Homo sapiens: one gene and its partner. The protein of the gene in region 2 purifies or fractionates together with the protein of the main gene of each other region. This does not show direct contact. Each region holds a gene or a part of one and is shown on either strand. Other genes may lie near its edges.

Region 1 (4,547 bases), on a different chromosome or scaffold from region 2:
TCTGCATGGGCCACCGAGGGCCCAGGGAACTACCTCGGGGTCTCCCCCAGACACTGTGGATCTCCTTCAACATATGCAGCACACCGCATGCAGCCCAAGGCCTGGAAACCAGCAGTACCTGCCCTTGAGATGCTGCAGGGGCTGCCCTGGTGTGGACTCACGTGTGCTGTCTGAGATTACCTTCTCTTCTCTGTGCCCAGCAGTGTGCTGAGCAGGCAGGCCAAACCAAAATCCTTAGCCTCAGGCCCACAACTTATTGTGAGTAGGGAAATAGTAGTCTGTAGTCTCTCTTGGACCCTCTCCCTGACTCTAGAAATGTGGAGATTAGGGGTAGAATTATATATATTGGCTTGGTTTTTCTGACAAGATCTTGGCAAAGAAGAAGGGTGTTTCCCCAACTCTTGGGATCTGGAGCATGGGCCCCTCCCACTGTCATGGGCTCTGCCTGCTTCCACTCAGTTGGGCCCAGGCATGGAGTCTTCTCCCAGGCCTCCAGGGGGAGAGGAGCAGCAGCCACTTCTCACTGGTTAACAGCATCTGCACAGCCACCAGGGCACATACCTCCTTTGGCAGCCCTTGAGGGGCTGTGTTATCTCTGGGGCAGGGCTTTCCTTCCCCTGGTGGGTCAGGCCTGGTTGAGCATGGTGGCACTCACCAATGATTTCACATCTTTTGTGAGCATAAATGAGGGCCATGGTGGAGCACAGGGACACGTCTGGGTGATGCCTGATGCTTTCCAGGTCACTGATGGCATCCTGGATGTGCTCTGCAAAGACAGTCCACATAGTTATACTCTCAAGCTCCAGGACTAGAGGACATGAGACTCTGTAGCTGACCCAACAGCTCAGCACTACTACCTGCTGGACTAACTGGTCTGAAAGGTCCCCAGTGACCCAAGTTCCCTGAAGATTGGGGCTCTTTGAAAGAGTTGCTGGTAACATGGTCCAGGCTGTTAGGGGCTGGAAATCTTGGACTTGAAAGGTTCACCCTGTGAGTACTTGTGGGGATATGTGTGAGGCTGCAATTATTAGCTGCGTCAGTTCTGAAGAAGGACCTCAGGCAGGGCATTCTCAGCTACTGCTCAAGAGCCACTGATTACATTTATCCCTCCATGTCCTCAGACATTTGGCCATGGGCTATTCTGCCAGTCCTCAGCCTAGGACCACCTTCTGAATGTCAGCCCATCTGCACCTGCATGGGTCTCACTCCTCTCCCTGTACCTGTACCATACCCACCTGTCCTCACACCTACCTCTTCCCCCTCCTTTGCCTGCATTACCAGTTCTCAGCTTCCAGGCCTGGAATTACTTCAAGAATCATGCAGCTATCTCTCCAACCACTCATTTTACAGAGAGGGAACCCGAGGTGCAGAGCAGGGATAGTCAGCGCTCTGAGGTCTCAAAAGTCAACTAGATATGGATTACGTAGGCCTCTGTGGATTCCCGTGGGAATCCAGCCGCTGAGTGTGAAACTGTTTTTATGGGACCATAACTAGGATACAAGAAGGCATCCAGGTGGAGCCAGAGTGTTAGGGCCCAGCTAGTGCCTGGGGTCACAAGACCAACACTGCCAAGTCCTTACCTTCTTTGAGGACTCCATAGGCTTTAAAGAACTTCAACACAGGGTCATTGCTGAATTTTTCCAGGCCCACAGCTGCAGCCTGCTGCACATGGTGGAAGTACTTTTCCTGGCTATAGTAAATGATCCCAGCCTGTATGAAGGAAGACATAACTGCAATAGCCCAGTCCCTTCTCTGTCTCTGTTCTGTCCCAGATGGGATGAGACCTGCTCCCTTCCCTATCCCCTGCTCCTCCTCAGTTCTGCAAAGGGAAGAGAAAGAGGAAACATTCAGGCCTCATCCTGTCCTCTAACAGCCCTGGGAGCAGCTCCATGCAGTTTTCCCAGGAAAGAGTTTGGAGGTGTTTGTTTGGGGGATTACCAACAGATTCTGGTTCAACTATGATGGGGAATTCAACCAAGGCTTTGTCTTAGGAAGGGAATAAGGGGGGAAAAATGAGGACAAATAATAAGAAAAATTATACGAATTGTAGTTACAAGTTATTGTGGGCTTCATATCCACTATCCTGTGCATGGTCCTCTCAGTATCTTTCACAGCTAAGGAAGCTTAAGCCCATGGAAACTACAGCTTGACAAAGGGGCTGAGATTTTAAAGTTAAGTTTCACTTCCTCTAAGGTTTGTGGGTGCTAGGTTGGGAGCAGATGTGGTTGGACTGTAAACATCCTCATGGGCCATATGAAAGAGCCCAGACACCATCCTAAGGGTAACAGAAAGCAGAATGGTTTTAAGGCGAGGGATGTTTTCAGATGTACATTTTTGCAACAACCACTCTGGCTGCTTTTGCATGTGGGGGGTGTGTGCCGTGGTGGCAGCAGGGACTACTGATGCTGAAAAGAGCCACAGCAGAGAAACCAGATGGGAGGGAGGCTGTTGCAGGCTCTCAGGGGGGAGAGATGGTGCTGGTTCTGGGCTAGAAGATAAAAAGATAAAAAGAAAACCCAGGAGACATCAAGGAGCTGGCATTTCTTGTAGACAGGATTAGAAGATGAGTATAGGGAAGAGGTATGAGTTAAGGCTAGGAGATTAAATGGTGAAGCCATCAACTGGGGTGGGAGGCGCAGGCGAGAGTGAGCTGGGTGGAAGAAGGGATGATGACAAGAAGGGATAATGATAGTGATTGGATGAGCTGGTTTGGGGTAGCTCAAGAAACGGGGATGCTAATTTGGGGCTCAGGGTGCGCAGAAGCCACCGGAGAAGACGCCCTTGCCAGGGGGAGTGGGGCAAGAAAAGGCAGGACCGCCTGATATAACTGAGGACAGCGAAGGGTGGCAGGAGAGTAGCAGGGCAGACGGTCTCTGGGTCAGGGGCGGGGAGTCACGAGGGAGCCCTCGGACAGCGCCCGGGCCACGCACCATAAGGGAGGAGTCATTGCTGCTCATCTCGGGCCGCTCGCGGCTCCGAGTCCGGGTCTGGTGGGGCGGTGCAGAGCGGGATTCCCGAGGCAGGGTCGTGGGCACTCTATCGCGGCGGGCGGTTGAAGGCGTTACAGTCCTTGGAAACCGAGCTGCTAGCCGGTTGCTAGGAGCGTCCAGTGTCTGGAGTGGGAGGAACAAAACGCCTCACGTCACAAGGCGCAGGAATCGAGCGCCGAGAGAGCGAGTCGGTGCTACTGGCGTCGGGTCGGTCCGGGTAGGCGCAGCGGGACTGGACCTGGGTGCCGAGCGGAGCCGCTGCCATGGGCCTGGGCGTCAGCGCTGAGCAGCCCGCAGGCGGCGCCGAGGGCTTCCACCTCCACGGGGTGAGTTGCCGCCGCGGCGCCGGTGACCTTGGCGAGGCGCCCGCAACCCCGCGCCCGGGCGTCCGGTCGCCGGCTGGCTGGCGACTGCGGCGGGGTCCCGGCCCGAGTGTTTCCGCCTGGGTGGCGGGAGGTGCCCCCTGCCCGGTGGGAGCCTCCTGGGAGAGGCGGCCTCGCGGGACTCCCGGACCCTGGCTAGTCCGCGGCCGCGGTCGGGCCCAGCGCCCGCCCCAAGTGCCAGCAGTGCCGGAAGCGGAGCGTTTTCCTGGTCCGGCCGCCGGGAATGGCGCTCCTCCCGGGTGAAGAATGCACCACTACCAGTCGGGACGCACTCGTGCACTTAGCACACATTTACGCTCGCCTGCCGCGGGCCGCTCTCCGTGCTGGGCCTGGGAAGAGAGTCAGCCACGCCGAGGACAGTCCCGGGGGCCGGGGTTAACCGAGTGGACGCAGCTGCGGGGGAGCCCGTCGGCGCGCGTCCTGCCAGTCGTAGGGTCGTAAGGGCTTCCGAGGGTAGAGGACCGGTGCAAACCAGCCACGGGATAGTGGGGAGCGGGAGGGCCGGGAGAGTGCTGCAGAATCCTCGAGGAGAGCGTTTGCAGCTGGGGAGGGTCCCAGCCTTTAGATGCCGCTACATGGAGGTCTGGGCGAGCAGGCTTCCGGAGAGTGGAGACGGAGTGGGGTTCCTAGAACGGAGTGTGCTGTGAGGGTGAGGAGAGGGTCCCGCAGCCGGATGGAGATTTGTGCCTGCGGTGAGGGAAGGGCTATAATGTAGGTGAGAGGGGCTGGGGGTCTCTGACCCCGGAGCGCTGCGGGGAAGAGGCGTCCCTGCACCCCCCCTTTCCCTAGTGAAAGGCAGCTGGATGCAGAGATGAGTGGAGACAGGCAAGCTTGTCGGTTTGTGTGTTTTGAAGGTAGGGTCTGTTGCCAGCTAACCACATGAGAGGGCTAAAAGTTTCTTAACGTGAAAACCAGGCTGGCTTGGAGAACCCAGAGTTGACAGGATTTGTGCTTGGGAATGGGCTTTCTTATGGTGAGACACCAAACAGCAAGCGTGGACAGTGGAATGCATCCAGCCAGGAGCGTCTTCCAACAGGTTTGATTAAAGGCAAAGGAACTCAGGATATTGGCAAGAGGAGGGGTGGGGCGATGATGGGAGCTTCGAAGACGGGAGGGGCCTGCCTGATGGAGAGGGACAAATTGGAGAGGGACCAGGGATCAGAGGTTGTCAGTC
Region 2 (2,475 bases):
TGAAGAGAGCTCCTTTTGTTTTCCTGATGGACCCAGGGCCAATGTGCCGCAGCCCTCGTGAAGCACAAAGTGCAAGGCTGTGGCTCCAAGATGGAGTGTTTCTCCCTCTGCCTTTAAGAGAACACGGGGGTCATAGATAGCATTGTACAGACGTGTACCTTGCCAGGGCTGCCAGGGGAATGCAGGCTCATGGGGAGGATTGAGGGGACAGAGATGTGTGTGTACAGATTAGTGTGCCATAGACTAAGCACAGCAGAGGCAAAGAATGCCATCTAAGCTCTTGTCGCTCGGAGTGTCCGAGGATCATCACCATACAGGTCACCCAGGAGCTTATTAGAAATGCACAGTCTCATGCCTCACCCCAGACCACAAATCAGAACCCGCATTCGAACCACATTCCTAGGTGACTCCCAGGCACATTATAATTCAAGAAGCTCTGCTGCTTTTACCTGCACCGAGGCCTCAGCCTTCAGACCACTCCAGGAAGCCACCTTTTCACATCCCCACACCCCCACCCGACACTCTGTCACCTGGATCTTGCCCATTTCCTCCCTGGCATGTCCCTTAGTCCCTTAGGTCTGCACATCTGCCCTTCCTCATTGGCCAGCTCTAGCACAGATCACTGTGTTCACCTTGGCAGTCCCAAGTCCTTGCACACTGCCTGCCTGAGAGCAGGCTCCAAGCTGAAGGCTTCTCGAGTCAGTGGACGAATGGATACGTGATCTACATGGCAGAAATAAAAGCCTGAAGTTTGCAGAAGGTTAGGTGTTTATTTGCACTGCTTTTATACTGTCTACCAGGTTAAAAAAAAAAAACAGAGACTCTTTTGAAGGCATAGATTTTAGATATCAACCTCAGACTGTGGCATTTGGGATTTCCAGAGCATGTCGTTGAGGCACTTTTGTACCCAGAGGCACATGGAATTTACCAGGCTGTGGAGATGATGTGCTCTCGGGATGCTGCTGCCAGTAGCCTGGTGAGGTAGGGAAGACAGCAGTGGACGCACAGTCAGGGCCCAGTACACAGCCCGCCTGCCTTTCGTGTGATTGTCCAGCAGGTGGCACCTGTTCCCTCCTGCCACCCACCTTATAATTGCTTCCCTCTTGAGCACCTTCAGCCAGAGGTGGGTGGGAAGGGGAGGACGTGCACTGGGTTCTGCTATGTGCCAGCATCTTTGGTATAAGGAGCCATTCCCTGGCCCAGGGCAGGCAGCCAGTACCCACCGGGGTTGGGGATCATTGGTGGGTCTCCATTGCCCATGCTCTCCCTGCCTCTCATTAGTAGGGAATCGATGGGCCCTTGTTATGCCAAGGCAATGCTAAAATCTCTGCTTTACCTGCCCCCTTCTCAGCAAGGCTCTCTGTGGGCCACAGCTGATGCTCCATCAGTGCCAATTTATGAGACAAGTTTCTGCCGCTCAGCCTTGGCACAGCAGATGGAAAATACCTGCAGGAAGAGCTTCCCCGGCATGGCCTTCCCTGCATCGGTCATGTGCCTAATGAGCTATCCTTGCAGTGGGCTCTTCTCCTGCTTTTCACTGAAGAACCCTTATGTGCTGCATAGACATGAGCTCATGAAACCTCCCTGGCGGGGGGGGGGCAGGGGCAGCCTCATCTGTGACATTCTCTCTGGGCAGCCTTCACTGGCCCTACTCTCTTCCTTCCATCAGAAGATGGCTTTGGGCCCAGGAGACTCATGAAGACCTCACCCTCTTTGTCTTCAAAGATGCTTTTTCTGTGGCAGATCAACCTGGTTCTGCAGAGGGTTGGGGGCTCAGCCGAGAACACCTGTTTCTTCACAGGGGAAGTAAGCTAGAGTCAGTAGGGAGCAGCAAGGATGGCCTGTGACTGGAGGACAGACGTCCTGTGGCCCCGGCGGTGCTCTTCCCTCTTGTGCTTTGGGGCAGCAGCATTTTAGGTTTGTAGCTTTGGTGGAAAAGTTGCTCCCCACTGTTTTGAAGTGTAATGCCCCATGAGGAGGAAGTTGGAGCCAGTGTGGTTTTCTGGGTCCTCTGCCAGAGGACATTTGGAGTCCCCAATATTTTTCCTCAGGACTGACTTCGTGAAGACAGTCCTTCAGCCCAGGCAGGGCTCAACTCTGACGCCCGGGGAGCTTTACTCCCTAGAGTGTTTTCTCTTGCTCTCCCCCTTGGGCTGATTTCTAAAGGGTCTGCTCTAGGCCTTCCTGGGAGTCATTCAAACTGAAGATGGAAAGGGTGAGAAGGCACAGTGGTTTAAAGGACGCTCATCGCCAGGTTAAAGGAGGGAAGGAAATTACACTTGTTCCCAAGCCAGGCTCACTAATGGCTCTGGAAAGGAGGTGACGTCACTCTCACAGGAGGATCCATTTGCAGGCTCTATGGTGACTTCTGACTTTCAGGGAAAATGTCTCCCCCACTCAGCAAGGATGAGGTGGAGCAGCTTCAGCCCAATCCCTCCATCCTCCCACCACCGGGCAAAGGACCAGGCACAGACT

What was found.
Region 1: the proteins of STEAP3 (region 2) and TTC21A purify together in Homo sapiens (affinity purification with mass spectrometry; one large-scale study listed by BioGRID and IntAct). This does not show direct contact.

The regions. Positions count from the first base shown.
Region 1 is NC_000003.12:39,106,248-39,110,794, reverse strand, and holds the start of TTC21A (tetratricopeptide repeat protein 21A), read right to left. Parts: upstream 3,116-4,547; 5' UTR 2,958-3,115; coding exon 2,931-2,957; intron 1,711-2,930; coding exon 1,581-1,710; intron 767-1,580; coding exon 656-766; intron 1-655. Other genes in the region: GORASP1 (Golgi reassembly-stacking protein 1), read left to right, coding at 4,332-4,409. UniProt on the Homo sapiens protein: Intraflagellar transport (IFT)-associated protein required for spermatogenesis. Required for sperm flagellar formation and intraflagellar transport.
Region 2 is NC_000002.12:119,263,928-119,266,402, reverse strand, and holds the end of STEAP3 (metalloreductase STEAP3), read right to left. Parts: 3' UTR 751-2,475; downstream 1-750.